4 separate regions of the Homo sapiens genome follow, and all the other regions are linked to region 4. Evidence: fine-mapped expression QTL. A gene starts in region 4. Each other region holds a variant in brackets. All regions are shown on one strand. Distances are from middle to middle.

Region 1 (5,149 bases), 25 kb after region 4:
GCAATGGTGCCATCTCGGCTCACTGCAACCTCCATCTCCCAGGTTCAAGTGATTCTCCTGCCTCAGCCTCCCGAGTAGCTGGGATTACAGGCATGCACCACCATGCCTGGCTAATTTTTGTTCTTTTAGTAGAGACGGGGTTTCACCATGTTGACCAGACTGGTCTCAAACTCCTGACCTCAGGTGATCCGCCTGCCTCAGCCTCCCAAAGTGCTGGGATTACAGGCGTGAGCCACTGTGCCTGGCCAACTTTTTAAAATCCTTATTGCGTTTTAGATTACAAGTACAACATTAAGTTATGTAAAATTTGAACACTACAGGCCGGTCGTGGTGGCTCATGCCCCTAGCACTTTGGGAGGCCTAGGCAGGCGGATCACCAGAGGTCAGGAGTTCGAGACCAGCCTGGCCAACATGGTGAAACCCCGTCTCTACTAAAAATATTAGCCAGGCATGGTGGCAGATGCCTGTAATCCCAGCTACTCGGGAGCTGAGGCAGGAGAATCGCTTGAATCCGGGAGGCGGAGGTTGCAGTGAGCCGAATTGTGCCACTGCACTCCACTCTGGGTGACAGAGCAAGACTCTGTCGCAAAAAAAAAAAAAAAAAAAAAGGCGCAGTGGTTCACACCTGTAATCCCAGCACTTTGGGAGGCCAAGGTGGGCGGATCACGAGGTCAGGAGATTGAGACCATCCTGGCTAACACGGTGAAACCCCGTCTCTACTAAAAATACAAAAAATTAGCTGGGCGTGGTGGCGGGTGCCTGTAGTCCCAGCTACTCGGGAGGCTGAGGCAGGAGAATGGCGTGAACCCGGGAGGTGGAGCTTGCAATGAGCCGAGATCGTGCCACTGCACTCCAGCCTGGGTGACAGAGTAAGACTCTGTCAAAAAAAAACAAAAACAAAAACAAAAAACTACAAAAGTATATAATATATAAAGGAGAGTCTTCCATTGAATTAACCCATACATACACTAGAAACCACCGCTGTCAAGAGTATGGTGCATGTTTGTCTAACTTGTAAAAAGTATATGTATGATCCGAATGACTGAAATAAAAAATAATGACACCATTAAATGCTGGTGAGGATAGAGAGAACTTTGATCACTCACATATTGCCAGTAGGAAAATAAAATGGCATGGCCACTCTAGCAAAGAATATGACTGCTTCTTACAATATTAAATATGCACCTGCCATATGATGCAGCAATTACACTCCTGGGCATCTACCCAGAGAAATGAAAGTTTTTATGTTCCTGGTCATAACTGTTCACAATAGCTTTATTCCTAATTGCCCCAAACTGGAAACAACTGAAATGTCCTTTAATGGTGGAAGGTTCAATAAACTATGGTACATTCATACCATGGAATACTACTCAGCAATAAAAGGGAAGGAATTATTGATACACATGACGATCTGGATGGATCTCCAGAGAATTTTGCTGAGTGAAAAAAGCCAATCTCAAGTTGCATACTGTGTGATTCGTTTTAGATAATATTCTTGAAACAATAAATGTATAGAGATAGAAAACAGATCAGGGGTCAGGTAGAAGGGAAGAGTGACTGTGGCCATAAAAAGGTAGCATAAGGGGTCTGTGTGGTGGAACTGTTCTTCATCTTGAGTTTGGTGGTGGTCACGTGAATCCACACATGTAAACTTGCTTAGAACCAAATACACACACATGAGTGGCTGGGTATGGTGGCTCATGCCTGTAATCCCAGCACTTTGGGAGGCTGAGGCAGGCATATCACTTGAGGTCAGAAGTTCAAGACCAGCCTGGCCAACATGGTGAAACCCCATCTCTACTAAAAATACTAAAATTAGCTGAGTGTGATGGCACATGCCTGTAATCCCAGCTACGCAGGAGACTGAGGCTGGAGAATCACTTGAACCCTGGAGGTGGAGGTTGCAGTGAGCCGAGATCGCGCCACTGCACTCCAGCATGGGCAGCAGAGTGAGACTCCATCTCAAAAAAAAAAAGAACTAAATACTAAAAAACTAAAAATTGATGACATCTGAGTAATGGCGAAGGGTTCTATCAATGTCAGTTTCCTGGCTGTGATATTGTACAATAGTTATATAAGATGTTACCATTGGGGGGAAATGGGTGAAGGGTACGCAGGATCTCTCTGCATATTTCTTTTTTCAATAAATTTTATTGAGATAAAATTCACGTAATATTTACCTTTTTAATGTGTAAAATTTAGTGGTTTTTAACATATTTACAAAGTTGTGCAACTTCAGCACTATCTAATTTTAGAACCTCTTCATCACCCCCAAAAGAAACCCTGTATCCATTATTAGTTACTCCCTGTTCCCCTCTCCCCCAGCTCCTGGCAGCCACTAATCTACTTTCTGTCTCTGGATTTGCCTACTCTAGATATTTCATATTAATGGAATCATACAATATGTGGCCTTGTGTCTGGCTTCTGTCACTTAGCACAAGGTTTTCAAAATCCATCTATTAATATTTTATAAAATGTGTCTGCACTTCATTTCTTTTTACAGCCAAATAATACTTCATTGTATGGGTCTACTTCTGCATTTTATTTATCATATTCATAAGTTGATGGACATTTGGGTTGTTTCTACTTCTTGGCTACTATGAATAATGCTGCTGTGGACATTCATGTACTAGTTTTTGTGTGAACATGTGTTTTTAATTCTCTTAGGTATTTATACCTAGGAGTGGAATTGCGGAGTCATATAGTAACTGTATGTTTAACTTTCTTTTTCTTTTTTTTTTTTTTTTGAGATGGAGTCTCACTCTGTCGCCCAGGCTGGAGTGCAGTGGCGTGATCTCGGCTCACTACAACCTCTGCCTCCCGGGTTCAAGCGATTCTCCTGCCTCAGCCTGAGGCCTGAGTAGCTGGGATTACAGGTGC[A/G]CGCCACCACGCCCAGCTAATTTTTGTATTTTTAGTAGAGACGGGGTTTCACCGTGTTGGTCAGGCTGGTCTCGAACTCCTGACGTCGTGATCCACCTGCCTTGGCCTCCCAAAGTGCTGGGATTACAGGCGTGAGCCATCGTGCCCGGCCCTCTGTGTTTAACTTTCTAAGGAATCACCAAGCTTTTTTCAAAGGGGTGGCACTGTTTTGCATTTCCATAAGCAATGTCTGAGGGGTCTGATTTCTCCACATCCTTACCAACATTTGTTATTGTCTGGTTTTTTTTTTTTTTTAATTACAGCCATCCTAGTAAGTGTGAAATTGTAAGACATTGTGATTCTATATTATCTCCCTTTTTTTTTTTTTTTTTTTTGAGATAGGGTCTTGCTCTGTCACCCAAACTGGAGTGCAGTGGTGTGATCACAGCCCACTGAAGCCTCAACCTCCCAGGCTCAAGTGATCTTCCTATCTCAGCCTCCCAAGTAGCTAGGGCTACAGGCATGTACCACCATGCTTGGCTAATTATTTTCTTTTTTATAGAGACAGGATTGTACTGTCTCTTATAATTGCATGTAAATTGGCCTGGCACAGTGGCTCACACCTCTATTCCCAGCACTTTGGGAGGCCAAGGTGGGTGGATCACTTGAGGTCAGGAGTTCGAGACCAGCCTGGCCAACATGGTGAAACCTGTCTCTACTAAAAATACAAAAATTAGCTGGGCTCAGTGGCACATGCCTGTAATCCTAGCTATTTGGGAGGCTGAGGCAGGAGAATCACTTGAACCCGAGAGGCGGAGGTTGCAGTGAGCCGAGATCGTGCCACTGCACTCCAGCCTGGGCAACAACAGTGAAACTCCGTCTCAAAAAAATTGAGCCACCACACCCAGATAAATTTTGTATTTTTAGTAGACACGGGGTTTCACCATGTTGGCCAGACTAGTCTTGAACTCCTGACTTTGTGATCCACCCGCCTCCGTCTCCCAAAGTGCTGGGATTACAGGCATGAGCCACTGCACCCGGCCTACCTGGTGTTTGTTAAATGAACACTTGGGTGAACTGAAAACACCCAGTGATGCTCCAGAAAGGAGCACAAGTGCAGTAGGAAGGGGAGGAGTTTTTCCTATTGGCAAGAGGCCTCATGGAGACTACATCATGGTAGAATTGGTAGAATTGGAACTGCTCTGTGAGCAGCAGAAAGAAGGAAAGTGAGAAAGGAAGAGGGAAAAACCTTGGGGCTATTCCCTGGGAGTCTTAGAGCCAGCAGGAGATTCTTCTTTCACTGCTGCCCACAGGCAAAGAGGGAAGTAAAAAGGTGAAGGAAGATACAGAGAGCTCCTCTGTCTCTGCTGTGCCTCCTTTGCTGAATTCAGCACCTACATGCTAAATGCAAAAGCCCTTTATTTACTCAAAAGAAGTTTGGACTCAATGGTCCCAAATGCTTGGCACCTCTTTCCTCCTCAGGTAGGATGAGAATCCCTCTGAACAAAGCTGGATAATGGCTTTACTATGTCCATGGAAATTTTCCCCCTGGGAATAATGCCTTTCTCAATTATATGGGCATTTTCAGTGTACACCTCTTTGGAAAAGGTCAAGAACAAGCCATATAAATACAATCTTTTCTAATTATACATTTATATTTGGGTAAAAGTTCTTTCATAGTAGGGATCAAAGAGAATATAGAACTTAAAGACAGAGAGAACTCTCCAGAAGAAAGTCTGAACTTACCTAACAAAAAGTTAGATGAACAGCATTGGTTGTTTTTTTTCCTTTTTTTGCTTATATATATTATATGCCTTACAATGAATATGTCTTACTTTCCTAATAAGAGAAAAAAGCAATACGTTTATTTAAACCCTAAGAATTGCTGCCGGGCGTGGTGGTTCACACCTGTAATCCCAACACTTCGGGAGGCCGAGGTGGATCGTTTGAGGCCAGGAGTTCATAACCAGCCTGGGGAACATAGTGAGACCCCGCATCTACAAAAAAAAAAACAAAGAAAGAAAAGAAAAAAACCTATAAAAATCCGGGTGTGGTGGCACACACCTGTGGTGCCAGCTACTCGGGAAGCTGTGGTTGGACGATCACTTGAGCCAGGGTCGAGGCTGCAGTGAGCTATGATCATGCCAGTGCACTCCAGCCTGGGCAACAGACAGAGACCCTGTCTTAAAAAAATAAAATAAATAAAATAAAATAAGATAAAAAAGAATTGCTCATTAGCGGACATGGAGTAAAGGTTATCAGAAGAAAAAGCAGAAGGGCTGAGGCCATC
Region 2 (5,149 bases), 35 kb before region 4:
CCATGAATATACTTCGGGAAATACAGTCTATTACTCTTTTTTTTTTTTTTTTGAGACGGACTCTTGCACTGTTGCCCAGGCTAGAGTGCAGCCGGGCGCGGTGGCGGGTGCTTGTAATCGCAGCCACTCGGGAGTCTGGGGTCGCTTGAACCCGGGAGGTGGAGGTTGCAATGAGCCGAAATGGTGCCACTGCACTCTAGCCTGGGCGACAGAGCGAGACTCCCTCTGAAAACAAAAACAAAAACAAAAACAAAAAACAAACAAAACCCCCACACATTAGTAGTAGTTATTACCGTGGTCTTCCAAAGGGATTTTTCTCTTTCAAGCAGCAGTTTGGGACTCTTACCTGTTGTTTGCTGGTTATTACCCAATGGTCCAAGGAGTGAAATTTTTGAAAAACTAAACACTAGCTAGGTGTCACCACGAAGTGAACGCTGAATATAAAAGTCATCATTAATATTCATAAAGTAAGTCAGTGGAGAACAATGACTACATTGGTTAAAATCTGGTTTGCACAGAATATTTTAGGAAAACATTGTTTAGGACCCAGTATCCTCCCTCAGTGTGGAAGTCAGTGAATGAAAATTGTATTTGACAAGTTGTTCTTTAAGAAGACACTGCTTATGTGAAATGAAGTCAACTTGAATCCAGTTATGTGTGTCTGTCTCTTACATAAAAAGCCCAGAGGTAGGAATTACAGAGTTGGATGTGCTATGGTCTAAATGTTTGTGCCACCCCTACAAATCCATATGTTGAAAAAATTTTTTTTTCCTTTGAGATGGGGTTTCACTCTGTCACCCAAGCTGGAGTGCAGTGATGTGGTCATGGCTTATTGTAGCCTCAACCTCTCAGACTCAAGTGATCCTCCCACCTCAGCCTCACAAGTAGCTGGGACTGCAGGCATGCCACCACAGCTGGCTAGTTTTAAAACTTTTTATAGAGATGGGGTTTCCCTGTGTTGCCCAGGCTGGTCTGGAACCCCTGGGCTTAAGCAATCCTCCCACCTCACCTCCCAAAGTGCTGGGGTTATAGGCATGAGCCACCATGACTGGCTTGTATGTGGAAATTTTAACCCCCAATTTTTTTTTAACTTTCATTCTCAAAGGAGGTGATTAATCCCCAAATGATGGTATTATGAGGTGGGCCCTTTGAGAAGTGATGAGATGAGGGTGAAGTCCTCATGACTGGGATTAGTGACCTTATAAGAAAGGCCCAGAGAGCTCACTAGTTCCTTTCTCTCTTTGAGGACACAGCAAGAAAACACTGGCTGGCTGGCACAGTGGCTTACACTTGTAATCCCAGCACTTTGGGAGTCTGGGGTGGGAAGGTTGCTTGAGGCCAGGAGTTCCAGACCAGCCTGGGCAACATAAGCAAGATCCCGCCGTCTCTATAAAAAGTTAAAAAAATTAGCCAGGCATGGTAGCACATGCCTATAGTTCCAGCTTCTTTGGAGGCTGAAGTGGTAGGATTGCCTGAGCCCAGGAGTTCAAGGCTGCAGTGAGCCCTGACTGCACTACAGCACTCCAACTTGGGTGATACAGCAAAACCCTATCTCCAGAAAAAAAAAGTTATCTAAAGAGAGTTTGATAGACCTAGCTCATCTCATCCTTCCCACCAGGCCCCACCTCATAGGCCACTGCCCAGGCAACAGAGTGGCCGTGTGGATCCACCTCACTGTGGCTGGGATAGGGAATGGGATCACATGGTCTGCCTGGGGCTGCCCCTTCAGTGGGGAGCTGTGGGCTGGGCATTTCATCTGTAGGAGACTGTGAGGTGAGAGGAAGCAGAGGATATTCTGTGGGAAGAATCTTCATGGACCAGGTGATAAGTGAGCTAGATTTGGAAGAATGGGTGGGATTCTAGTGAGCAGAGAGGGGTAGAACATTCCCGGAGGGGTAAAGGAAATAAAGTATATATTACAGAGCAGGGGGAGCCTCGTGTGGTTGGAGCTGGGAGGTATGGGGAGATGGGGAGGGCAGGGGGAGGGGAGGGGAGAAAGAGTGGAGAGAAATCAGGCAGCGTTGTGCTGAGGCCAGAATGGGTAGGGGCTATATTTTGGGTAAGCTGGGGGAAAGTGGAACTGATGTTCTCTGAGCTGTGCTCTAGGAATCAGAGAGCAGATGGAGGCTGGAGGTAACTGGGAAGGAGCCCACACCTTTCTGGGCATCCTTTGTCATCCATCTTCCTATGTCCAGGCAGGAGCCAACCTGCTCTCCAACCTGGCTTGCACTTGGCTGAACAGACAGTCACTGCCCACTGAGTACCCGTGGGCTCTTCTACCTTTCCAGAACCCTGGCTGCTGGCCAGTGGGCTAGTGCTGGCCAATTGGCTATAATCGGAAGTGTGACCTATATGTGAAAGCAAACAGAGTCTTGGGACCCCAAACTCACTATGCCAAAGGGAAAGTTAAGTTTGGGAACTGAGTCACAGAAAAACTGCCTTCCTTTTGTTCCCAAACAGATAGCGGTAGTTTCACAATCCTGTGTCATAGCCTCATTCGTAAGCCAGGTTCCCACAACAATAGAAGGCTACATATTTCCCAAATTGTTCACAAGGAAATTCCCTGTGGGCCCCTAAACCTTTCAGAATACACATTCCCCTATAAGCTAGTTCTAAAATCAAGTTCTGTTAAACTTCACCCTGACAATGTCAATTATCAGCTTATCTTCACAGGGACAGGATAAGGACAAGACTAGAAATCATCCCTCCTCCTACCCCAAGACTTTGCATAA[T/G]TGACTTGGTCCTCTGTTTCACATGTAAAAGGTACATTCACTAAGGCTAATAGGAACCTAAGATTGTATCCATTTGCCTCATTGTCTACCCTTCTAGGAGCGCAGTGGAGCGATCTCGGCTTACTGCAACCTCCACCTCCTGGGTTCAAGTGATTCTCATGCCTCAGCCTCACAAATAGCTGGGATTACAGGCATGCATCACCATGCCTGGCTAATTTTTGTATTTGTAGTAGAGACAGGTTTGCACCATGTTGGCCAGGCTGGTCTCGAACTCCTTGCCTCAGGTGCTCCACCTGCCTGGATCTCCCAAAGTGCTGGGATTACAGGCGTGAGCCACCACGCCCAGCCCCCTTACCCCGTTTTTTTTTTTTTTTTTTTCCTCTTCTGCTTGCTCTTTCCCCTTCAAATACTGAAGTTCCTGAAACCTTCCTTGGAAAAATCACAGGTTGTAGATGCTTCTGTGACTTGTTTTTGTTTTGTTGGTTTTTTTGCATCCTCAATCATGGTTAAATAAGCTTCTAATCAATTGAGACCTGCCTCAGTCACTTTTTGGTTTACATGTGTCACTACTGGATCAAAAGGTGTAAGTTCTCCATGCCCTCTCTTCCCATGCCATGGTGACTGGTGATTGTCTAGATGGTGGCTCTTCTAGCAACCTGGATCCCTGAGACCCTAGGTGGAACAGAGCCCTGCCCTTCCATCCTCTTTTCTCCACTGCACTGAGCGTATAACATGATTGAGAAATATACTTTGTTGTGTGAAGTCATTGAAGTTTGGGGCTGATTTACTGCGGTAGAACCTAGCCTCACCTGACTAATAGACCAGCTGAGGGAGCTCCTTGCTCAGCGGCATGGGTTCCCCCGACACCCCCACCCCACACAGAGGTAGGCTGGGGTTGAGCAGAGCAGGGGAGGACAGCAGGACTTTGACCCCTGGAGGATTTGGCTTGGATTTCCCTCTCTTTTTTTTTTAATTTAAAAAAATGTATTTATTTATTTACTTAGAGACAGGGTCTTGCTGTGTTGCCCAGGCTGGAGTGCAATGATGCAACCTTAGCTTACTGCAGCCTCGGACTCCTGGGCTCAAGTAATCCTCCCACCTCCGCCTCCTGAGTAGGTAGGACTACAGGAACACACCACCACATCTGACTAATTTTTTTTTTTTTTTTTTTTGTAGAGATAGGTTTGCTATGTTCCCTAGGCTGGTCTCAAACTTCTGGCCTCAAGCAATCCTCCAGCCTCAGCCTTCCAAACTGCTGGGATGACAGGTGTGAACCACCACCCCTGGCTCAGACCTCTCAAAGGGCTCACTGCCTCCAGGGGGACCACAGCTGGGCTGAGCCTGCATTGCCTGAGCGCATACACCTCCACTGTAGAGGGAGAGGGCACCTGCCAGTGGAGGTCAGCCGCAGGCAACACAAGGTGGATTGTGTCTGAATCACCAGTAGCTCTATACAGCAAGGACCCTGTCCTTGAAGCACTGAGGCTGGAGACCAGACTGGGTCCTCAAGGCAACAGCTTCAGTCACCTCCTCCAGCCTTTCCTCCGAGGGGAGCTCTGAGCAAGACAAGCTTGATCATGTTACTTCCCTACTTAAAAACCTAGGATAGGGGCCAAGCAAAGTGGCTCATACCTGTAATCCCAGCACTTTGGGAGGCCGCGGCGGGGGCGAGCGGATCACTTGAGGTCAGGAGCTCAAGACCAGCCTGGCCAACATGATGAAACCTCATCTCCACTAAAAATACAAAAATTAGCTGGGCGTGGTGGTGTGCACCTGTAGTCCCAGCTACTCAGGAGGCTGAGGCAGGAGAATTGCTTGAACCCAGGAGGCAGAGGTTGCAGTGAGCTGAGAGGGTGCCATTGCACTCCAGCCTGGACGACAGAGCTAGACTCTGTCTCAAACAAACAAACAAACACACACCACCTCCAATAGGCCAGGCTGCTCATGCCTGTAATCCCAGCACTTTGGGGAGCTGAGGCAGGAGGACTCTTGAGTCTAGGAGTTGGAAACTAAACAGGGCAACATAGAGAGACCCTGTCTCTGATTAAACAAACAAACAAAACCCATAAAAATTAGGATAAGGTCCACATACCCTGGTCAAGCTTCAAGGTTGTTTGCAACCTGGCCCCAGGAAAGCAAAGTCCTGAAGAGTGGCTGCGGCAGACTGGCTCCTTCACCATTGCTCTGCTACAGCCACTACCAAGAGTTTTGTCTTCCCCAACTCCCTGATAGGTTCATGCACCTGGACAGTGGCATAAGCCATTCCCCACACCTAGAATGCCCTCACATGTCTCCTGCCCCTTTGCCTCTCTGGCCTGCTTTCGCTCCCTCCACCCTCTAGGACTCCCTCCAGCTCCTTATGGCCTGGAGGTCCCTGCCCACAGTCCCTGCTGCCTCTCTGAGGTGCAGACAAGGGA
Region 3 (5,149 bases), 260 kb before region 4:
TTGCTGAAAGGACTCACAGGACTCCAACAGTTTCTATACTCATACAGACCAGTTTTGTTTTGTTTTGTTTTGTTTTTTGAGAGTCTCACTCTGTCACCCGGGCTGGAGTGCAGTGGCAGATCTCGACTCACCCCAATCTCTACCTCTCGGGTTCAAGCAATTCTCCCACCTCAGCCTCTCGAGTAGCTGGGATTACAGGTGTGCACCACCATGCCCAGCTAATTTTTGTATTTTTAGTAGAGACAGGGTTTCACCATCTTGGCCAGGCTGGTCTTGAACTCCAGACTTCACATGATCCACCTTCCTCAGCCTCCCAAAGTGCTGGGATTACAGGCGTGAGCCACCCAGCCCAGCCCTCACATATCAGTTTTTAACAGGCAAAGGATACAGTATGGTAACAGCAGGCAACGTTATGCAAAGAAGGGGCTACAGATCTCAGGCACAGGCTTCTTTGTTCTGTCTCTGCTGACTCCCACTGCCTGTGCTACACGTTCAGGTCTTGAACCGTCATGTGTGTACATACCAGGAAGTCCAAAGCTCACTCATGGTGGGATCTCTTGGAGTGAACTGGTCACATAGGCATGTTTTAGCTCCATGACCAGCCTTAATATTGAAATCCTCCAGGCTCCATCAAAGAAACAATTATTAAACAGTGCTGATGGGCTGGTATGTCCTGTTCCCCAAACAATCCACAGACCGATGGTTACAGAACATCATTTGATATATTCCATAGTGTTGGCCAAGGGTCACCATCAGGCTCCAGGCAGCTCTACAGGTAAGCGTGCAGCCTATCCTGACCAGACCACACAGGAGCCCCCACAGCCAAGAAAGCCCATTAGAGGAGGCATGGAATGGGCTGGTTTGAGCAGCTCTGCCATGCGCAGTTATTGGCTAGGAGCAGCCTGGGGAGAGCATGGTGTTGATATGAATACTGTGGCAGAGCTTAGGGACAGCAGTTGGAGGCTGGAGATCTCAGTGGCTGTGATGGTTAAGGTTAGGTGTCAACTGGATTGGATTAAGGAACACCTACAGAGATGGTAAAACATTCCTTCTGGGTGTGTCTGTCTGGGTTTCCAGAGCAGACTGGCGTGTGAGTCAGTGGACTAAGAGGGGAAGATCTTCCCTCAATGTGGCTGGGCACCAACCAATTGGCTGGGGGCCAAGATAGAACAAAAAAAGGAGAGAAAAGGATTTCCTCTCTCTCCTGGAGCTGGGACCTACTCTTCTCCTCCTGTCCTTGGATATCAGGACCCCAGGCTCTCCAGCCTTGAGACTCTAGGGCTTACATGAGCACCACCCACCCCACCAGGTTCTCAGGCTTTGGGGCTTGGGCTGAGAATTACACCATTGGCATCCCTGGTTCTAAGACTTTTTGACTTGGATTGAGCCACAATACCAGCATCCCAGGGTCTCCAGCTTGCAGATGGCCTGTCATGGGACTTCTCAGCTTCCAGAATCATGTGAGCCAATTCCCTAATAAATCCCTTCTCCTCTGTCTGTATATGTATGTATGTATGTATGTATGTATGTATGTATCTATCTATCTATCTATCTATCTATCTATCTATCTATCTAATCATCCCCTGTTGGTTCTCTCTCTCTAGAGAACCCTGACTAGCAGTGGTGCACCTCCATAGGTATCAAAACCCATTTCAGGAAAGGTTTCAAAAGCCCTCTATACTTGTGAGGCCCCTGTTTATCTCTTGAGTCTTAGCTTTTGCCACATCTAATTTTAAACTCTTCAACTATCCTCAACTACTTAAAGTTCCTGGGATAAAAGCTCTGTTCTTTCTTTCCCCTGGGCCTTTGCACATGACTTTCTGCCAATCATAGTACTTTCTTCTTCCACTTCCTCTCTCTAACTTCTACTCAGCCTTCAGGTCTCAGTTCAAAGACTGGGAAACATTTCTTACCTCACCCCCTATCAACCTCTGATTAAGTTCAGGACATGCTACCCACAAATACAGCACTTTGGTATTTGAGAAAACAGCAGAAGCAAGTAGGTCCATCTCATCTTCCTCTCAGCCTTCTCCCTTGAAGCAGGTCATGAGACCTCATTGGAGAGGTCCCTCCCTATACCTAGAGGAAAGGGACATCCTTATCTCTGAACACACAGAGACACAAAGAAAAATCGGAACAAATAGGTCTTGCTAAGTGGTCCCCTCACACTTTATTAACATTAGATCATACTTTTTATCCAATTATATTTTTCCAGGACCATCCACTTCTCCATCAAACCTAGCATAAAATATACACAGATTTACCTGTTTGTTTGGGCCATTTCCTTTTTTTGTTTTTTTGAGACGGAGGTTTGCTCTGTTGTCTGGGCTGGAGTGCAGTGGCTTGCTCTTGAATCACTGCAAGCTCTGCCTCCCGGGTTCAAGCGATTCTCCTACCTCAGCCTCCCAAGTAGCTGGGATTACAGGCGCATGCCACCACACCCAGCTAATTTTTGTAATTTTAGTAGAGACTGGGTTTCGCCATCTTGGCTAGGCTGGTCTCAAACTCCTGGCCTCAGGTGATCAGCCCACCTCAGTCTCCCGAGGCATTACAGGCGCGAGCCACTGCACCCAGCCATTTCCTTTTAAAGTCTCCCATGTCGCATGAAACTTAAATAAATAAATGTGTATACTTTTCTTGTTAAACTATCTTTTGTTATAGGGGCTTCAGCCACAAACCCAGTGATGATCAAGGAAAAAATATTTCTTTTCCTCCCCTACATCCCGCACTCCACTATGCTCCTACAGTATCTTGACCTCAGCCCTAGGACAGCTACTGTCAAACTATTGCAATTGCTTATGGAATGTGTCTGTGTCTTCCCTTAGACTGAAAGCTCTGCGAGGCACTATGTCACATTGAATTTTGCAACCTTAGTTCCTGCCACATAGTAGGTGCTTAATTAATAAGTATTTGCTGGCCAATTACTGAATAATCGTACCCTATTAAATTGCCTAGAATACTAGGGGTTATGA[G/A]AAGACAGCAGAATTGATGACTATAAACCTTTTTCTTTTCTTTTTTTTTTTTTTTTTTTTTTGAGACAGGGTCTTGCTCTGTTTCCCAGGCTGGACTGCAGTGGTGCAATCATAGCTCACTGGAGCTTCAACCTCCCCAGCCCAACTGATCCTCACACCTCAGCCTCCTGTGTAGCTGGGACTACAGGCGCACACCACCTCACCCAGCTAATTTTTGTGGAGGCAGAGTTTGACTATGTTGCCCAGGCTATTAAACTCTTAATGTTTCCTTGGACACATACAGGTCCTGAAGGGGCAATCTTTCTGGGTTAGAATTCACAAATCTGCACTGTGTTGAGTCATCCAATCTTTCTGGTTTGGGCAGTTCTGATGACAAGGTATTCCTCCTTGGGTAGCCTGGGCTGGTGGGCTCCTCTAGCTTATATGTGCTAATTCATTTAAGAAATTCTGAACAGGCCAAGTGCCGGTAATCCCATCACTTTGGGAGACTGAGGGCGGATTGCTTGAGCTCAGGAGTTCTAGACCAGCCTGGGCAACATGGCAAAACCCTGTCTCTACAAAAAATAGTGTGCCCCTGTAGTAGCGTGCCTCTGCAGTCCCAGCTATTTGGCAGTCCGAGGTGGGAGGATGTGGCTTGAGCCTGGGAGGTTGAGGCTGCAGGAGCTGTGATTGCCCCACTGCAGTCCAGCCTGAGCAACAGAGTGAGACCCCGTCTCAAAAAATAAATAAATAAATAAATAAATAAATAAAATTGCCTAGTAGAGTGCCTCTTTGACTTCACATCTTCATTAAGTGCCTAGGAAGGGGTCTAGCACAAAACGACTACCAAAGATTTTAAGATTGGGATAAAACCTAGTCTGAAAACAAGATTTTCCTTGTAACACATTTATTGAGTTATACTTCACAGACCACAATTCACCTATTTAAAATACACAATTCTATAGTTTTTAGTATATACTAGTTCACACTTAACCCTGGGGGATACATTCCAGGACCCCCATTGGATGCCTGAAACTGACGATAGTACTGAATCCTATATATACTGTTTTCTCTATACATACATACCTACGATAAAGTTTAATTTGTAAATTAGCAAAGTAAGAGATTAACAACAATAACTAATAATAAAATAGAACAGGCTGGGCACAGCGGCTCACGCATGTAACCCCAGCACTTTGGGAGGCCAGGGCAAGCAGACTGCTTGAGCCCAGGAGTTCAAGACCAGCCTGGGCAACATGGCAAAACCCCATCTCTATAAAATATACAAAAATTGCTGGGTGTGGTGATGCATGCCAGTGGTCCCAGCTACTATGGAGGCTGAGGTAGCAAAATCACCCGAGCCTGGGGAGGTCCAGGCTATAGTGAGCCATCATTGCACCCCTGCACTCCAGCCTGGATGACAGACCTTGTCTCAAAAATAATAATAAAACAGAGCAATCACAGCAATATACTGTAACAAATGTATACTGTAATACAAGTTACTGTATATTGTAACTGTGTCTCTAAATATCTTATACTGTACTCATCTCTTTTCGGACCTCAGTTGTTTATGGGTAAATGAAACCACGGCAAGAGAAACTCTGGAGAAGTGGGGACTACTGTATGCACAGAGTTGTGCAACCACCAGGGTTGATTTCAGGACTTTTTTTTGAGACGGATTCTTGCTGTCACCCGGGCTGGAATGCAGTGGCACGATCTCAACTCACTGAGCCTCTGCCTCCCAGGTTCAAGTGATTCTCCAGCCTCAGCCTCCCGAGTATCTGCATTACCACTGCCCACCACCACACCCAGTTAATTTTTGTATTTTTAAAACAGACAGGGTTTCACCGTATTGGTCAGGCCGGTCTTGAACTCCTCTCCCCAAGTGATCTACCCTCCTCAGCCTCCCAGAGTGCTGGGATCACAGGCGTGAGCCACCACACCCGGCCAATTACAAGACATTTTCATCACCCCAAAATGAAACCCTGTACAGTGGACTGAACACGGCGGCTCCAGCACTTTGGGAGACTGAGGCAGAAGGATCCCTTGAGGCCAGTGGGTCCGGAGTCGGTTCTTTCCGGTGGGTTCTTGGTCTCACTGACTTCAAGAATGAAGCTGCGGACGTTGGTGTTGAGTGTTAAGAAGTCACAAAAACGGTGTGTCCAGAGTTTGTTCCTTCAGATATATCCACAGTGTCT
Region 4 (5,149 bases):
GCATGAAATTAAAATGCATTCTTAGCAAGAAATTCATCAAAGCCCTATTTATTTTCATTTTAAAAAGTTATTCATGTATATAAACCTTGGGAAGGTATTAGCTGTCAGGCTAATGAAGAAGTTGGCTCCCCTCAATTTAGCACCACTCTCCTTCCCTACACCCTCTATTATCTTAAGAGCCCTTAAAGATGACCAACACAACCCAATGAACTTCATTTAAAAATCTGCTTGTGGCATTCAAGTTCTATTTCCCAGAATACCTCTACCCTGACTACAGTTCACCCCTCATCAACTATTAAATTTGAATACACCCGATTGTGCAGTGTTCCTTCCACGTGGAAAAGTTTTTTTTACTAAGTAATTGTCAGCAAGAAATTTACCTCTCATTCTGACTTATTTCTTCCACTGTATGAGCTTTTATTTTAGGTTAATCGTAATATTTGCGGAGGCTAAGTCTAGGCAACTTCTGCCCTCTAATGGCAGATGCCCTTAACAACACAGTGGCTCAGGTAGTTCACAATCAAAAGAGCTAATACAGAAGGAAATAAGCTAATCAAGTAAATGAGGGGGTAGGAACTTTATAAAACACCCAATCTCGATTATATTATTATTTTGCCAAAAACTAGGAAAGATAACCTCAAAAGTGTATTCAAGAAAGCAACACTTAACTATTTTTAAAGAATTACTAATAGTTAACTAAAATGTCAATATATCCCATTAACATTATCAGTGATATACGAGGTCTCCTTAGACCTCCAGGTAAGATTATGGCTTCAAAGTTAAACGTTTTCAATAAAACCTAATACTTAACTTTATATATAAATGATCATACAGTACATTTATTTAAGCAGTAGTTAAGTGTTCAAATGAAAAAAAAAAGTTTCTCTAAAGCAAAAAGTTTTCCTGTTATCCATCTTTTTGTTAAATTATGTGGATACATACAAGAGAGACTTTGTCCCATTTTTTTCCTGTTTTTTAATACCTGTAACGATGAGGTTTCTTCACCCCTCCAGTAGAGGGCGCACTCTTGCGAGCGGCTTTTGTAGCCAGTTGCTTCCTGGGTGCTTTACCACCGGTCGATTTGCGGGCAGTCTGCTTTGTACGAGCCATGGTACAGAGACCTCCTTACTTACCTACCAGCATTGAAAAATCAAAAATCACCATATGCAACTACCAAACATACAACTTTTCCTGCCACGATCACCCCCTCCCCAAATCTGGAAATTATGATCAGTATAAAAAATAATGTTCGTATTGTTATATAATTTGAAAGGGTGAAGATTACGTCTACCCAAAATCTCTTCTTGAAACAAACTAGAGTACTAGAAAATTGTTAGCAGTATCAATCACCTCTCAAAATGCCAATTCTGAGCGACAAACGGCAAAACAAAAATACCTCGAACGGCCTTTGATCCAATTTATTTAATTAAAGCAGTAATTAGAAATGTCTGTAAACATTCCATCCACAAACAAGTCAAAAGAAAAAAGGCACAAACCACTGGAAGGTCGAGTCAAATTACAGCAAAAAAAAGGTCTTACTCCCCCCCACTTTGGCTGCCCCCCCTTCGTCTGACTGTTGATGGATTGCTGTAAATATCTGAAAATATTCTTGGTTTTGCATCTTTACAGTTATGTTGACAAAAAGGCGTCTCGAAAAAACAAGAGAGGAACAACAGCTACCACCAGCGAGCATTCTACAAAGCCCCGTCCTCGCGTCCAGTCCTCACAGGCTTCGCAGTGAAATAAAAAGTGCCCCGCACCCAGGCTTTAATTAACGCACGACATCCGCCGACCGGTCCACCCCAAGCACCACATAAACTTTTGGTTTTGCCTCCTTCGGGTCCCTCGGCACAGGGTCCCCCAACCTGCCCGCCTCGCTCCCAGCGCCTCGAGCAGGAACCAACTCGGCTCCCCGACCAGAACAAAATGGAAACAATCGCAAAACGTATCCGATTCCGTTCCAAAGAGACAAAACACCAAATCGCTCGAAAATACCCCTATCCCCTGCCACGTGCCGCCCTCCAAAATGCAAAAGTTTTTTTTGCATTTCAAATGCATCAAGTTTCCGCCTCTCCAAAAAAGGGAAAAAAACGTCCCTCTTTTAAAAATTCTTGCTTTTTTGAAATGGGGAAGAGAGAAACGGGGGAAAAAATATGGTCGGTGACCAGAGAAGAGAGACAAGATGGTGAAGCTTAGCAACAACTGTGGGGAGGCAGCAAAAAGCGAGTTACCCCAGGGTGCGAAGCGGCGGCGATTTCCACCCCTTTCCCGCTCGAAAACTGGGGGCTGGGGCCCGGGGGCGGTAGTTAAGAGGCCCGCGCGGGTCATGGTGAAGGTTTGGGGTCCGGGGAAGGGGCGGCGGGCGGGATTTCACCGAAGAAAGAGGAGCCAGGGGCGCGGGGAGGAGGAGGGAGAGCAGGCTCGGCGCCGCGGCGGTTGCTGCTGTTGGGCTGAGGCGGCGAGAGACGGGGGAGCCGCCGCCGCCAGAGGGAACAGGGAAACTCGCTCCTCACCTCCATTTCTGGGCCAAAAAGTTTGTGGGCTAAGCCGGAGGGGCTATGGGTCCCCTCCCGGCACCGCCAGGGCCCGGCTCGGGGCTGACGGCAAGCGGGGCTCGGTTCCGGGGAAGCGGGCAGACGGGGAAACTTACCCCCCTTCTCCTTCGGCTGGAGCTCGGCGAGCGAGAGGCGGCGCTGGCGTTGGAGAGCGACGGCGGCGCGGCGGCGGCTGCGAACACAATTGAAAGATGGCTGACACCGAGGCTATCCCCCAACACACGCCGCCCCGCCCCCGCGCCGCGCGCCAGCCAATCACACACAATGGAGGGAAGGCTCGGCCCCGCCCCCATAGCTCCTCTCGCGCCCCGCCCCCGCCCTTCCCCCCGCGCGCCCGTTCGCTGGCGCGCGCTCGCCCCTCCCCCGCGCGCCGCCCGCTCCCTCCTCCAGGCCGCCTCGCGCCGTGTGTGTACAAACACAAAAGACACGCTGAGGGGCCGCCGGCTCCCGCCGAGACTGCCGCCCGCACCCGGCCAGCCCCCGCCCCCGGCCCTGCACTCCCATCCCGCTCCGTGTGCGCACGGCGTCGAACCCCCGAAGCCCGGGTTTGGGGCGCCCGGAGGGAAGTGGGGGGAGGGGAAGGCGGGCGGAGGCGCGGCGGGTGAACGCCCGGCCTGCGGGCGTCTCGGGCCGCGGCGGGGAGGGGAGGGAGGGGCTGCCCCCGCGCGGGCCCCGGCGCGCGCCCCCGAGGAGACCCGGGCGGCAGTGGGGGAGGAGGACGCGGTCGGCCGGGTCGCCGCGCCCCATTGGAAAACGCTCCCCAGCAGGAAGCTGGCAAATAGGAATCCAGCGTCCCGCGCCCGCTGTCGGACCTGGCCGCTGCGGCAGCGGGAGGGGCGGACCGACGGCCTCCTTCCCGCCTGCGCGCTCGGCCAAGTGCGGCCGGGTCCTGCGGGACCGGCCCGAGTCCGCCGTAGACAACTTGATCCGCTAAGACTCCTGGGCCGGCCGCCTGCGTGCAGGGCAGCCCCTCGCCGGTGTTGGCCTCCGGGATCAGGGGACGGGGCTCGCTCTCCTCCCGGGCCCGGGCCCCCGACGCAAGATGGCTGTGTCGCGTCGGCCTCTAAACAATGTGTGGAGCGCGCAGCTCCTGCACCAGGGCCTGGTGGCTTGTCCTGCCCGCCCGTGGGGGCCGTGTGATCTGTTTTCGGTAGGATTGCTTTGGAAAGGAATTGCCGAATATAGATAGTCAAATGTCCGCAGCTTCTGCATAGTTTAGAAGAGGCTGAAAACGGCAGAAAGAAGGCAAACGTGGTTTGGGAATTAGTACATATACCTGTTTTCCAATTCTCAGTAGCATAGGAAACGGACTTTTCATGGCCCAAGTTATCCTCACGACTTGTCAGTTGATTGGCTTTGGAACCTCTGAACCGTCCCTAGATGGTATTGACGCTTCACAACTGTGTGTAAAGGTTTTCAATGGAAGGGTCATGCAAATATCCCGTAGGGTAGTGAAGGAGGAAAATTTCATAAATGAAGGGCAGTAATTATTTGTAATCTGAAGATCTCACAAAGCGGCTTAGTGATAAACATTATCCCGAAACAGATACATGGAAATCAGATACGAGGGAAGAAATGGATTTGTCCAAGGTCACTTAAGTGAGGAAGAGACCTAGGAGAAACAAACAGACAAAAATCCAGGCCTCCCGTTTCATTATTATTTCATGAATGTTAAGTGTCCATGGTTGCTGTGCAGAACACATGCAATCTCTAATCCTATCCTAAAAGCACATATGCAATCAGCTTGGACCGAGCTGCCAGCAAAGAATTTCCTATAATTCAAGCCAAGATGAGTTATTTTGCTTGTTTTTTGTTTTGTTTTCAGGAAACCGAAATATTTATTGTTGGATTTATCCAGGAAGGCTGTTCTGCATTAGTTAAATGCATCATATCTTCAAGAAATGTTAAATGACATGGGTAATGTTTTCTTTGTATGCTGGATTTTTCAATAGCTTCTACTTCTTGGCTTTAAAAAATATTTCTAACCAAGGGTCAGACCATTTTAGGTAGAGTAATTATGATCTTAGATGATTTGAACTAACTCAGCTGTCTGTCCATTTGTGAAATGGGAATAATAATATTTATCTCTATGAAGTTAGGCCACAAATTCTTTCTAGTAGGTTCAAGTATTTAAGCACCTGGAGAGGTGACTGGTTACCCTCCTAGTGGCTTCAGGAAGTTTTCTCACTGAATGAATATTTATTGAGTGCCAACTCTGCTCAGCACAATTCAGGGGTGCTGGGAATGCAGCAGTGAATAACACAAGCAGTGTTCCTGCCCTCATGGGGCTTATGATCTCTGGAAGCACTGCTTTGCACAGGGAAGTAGCACCAGGAGGGGGTAAAGAAAGAGGGACTTTGGAGCCCCAAGATTGGCAAAAACTATAGCTAATGAGAGAGGTGAACTGTAGAGTCTAGATAATGGGGAAGGAGAGGTGCCAGAGCAAGAAGGGATTCTCACAGGGCCCTACGGGTCAGTCCTGAATTGGCTTTACTAGAACTCAGGCCCAGCACAATGGCTCACATCTGTAATCCCAGCGCTTTGGGAGGCCGAGGTGGGTGGATCACTTGAGATCAGGAGTTTGAGACCAACCT

The links.
Region 1: its variant is fine-mapped to the expression of H3-3A in cerebellar hemisphere (GTEx, PIP above 0.99).
Region 2: its variant is fine-mapped to the expression of H3-3A in cerebellar hemisphere (GTEx, PIP above 0.99).
Region 3: its variant is fine-mapped to the expression of H3-3A in whole blood (TOPMed, PIP above 0.99).

The regions. Positions count from the first base shown.
Region 1 is chr1:226,034,899-226,040,047 of GRCh38, reverse strand. No RefSeq gene overlaps it. Among named protein-coding and RNA genes, the nearest start is that of H3-3A-DT, 25 kb to the left of the region's middle. The variant A/G (reference allele first, on the strand shown) is at 2,881.
Region 2 is chr1:226,095,458-226,100,606 of GRCh38, reverse strand. No RefSeq gene overlaps it. Among named protein-coding and RNA genes, the nearest start is that of LINC01703, 14 kb to the right of the region's middle. The variant T/G (reference allele first, on the strand shown) is at 2,733.
Region 3 is chr1:226,321,362-226,326,510 of GRCh38, reverse strand. No RefSeq gene overlaps it. Among named protein-coding and RNA genes, the nearest start is that of LIN9, 15 kb to the right of the region's middle. The variant G/A (reference allele first, on the strand shown) is at 2,973.
Region 4 is chr1:226,060,313-226,065,461 of GRCh38, reverse strand. It overlaps H3-3A (H3.3 histone A), which reads right to left and starts at 2,746. Exons shown (of 4, transcript NM_002107.7): 1 at 2,651-2,746; 2 at 983-1,133. The coding sequence starts at 1,110. H3-3A-DT (H3-3A divergent transcript) reads left to right here and starts at 2,967. Exons shown (of 2, transcript NR_185887.1): 1 at 2,967-4,472. RefSeq lists an enhancer at 1,075-1,144 and silencers at 2,338-2,407, 3,026-3,191, 2,778-3,627.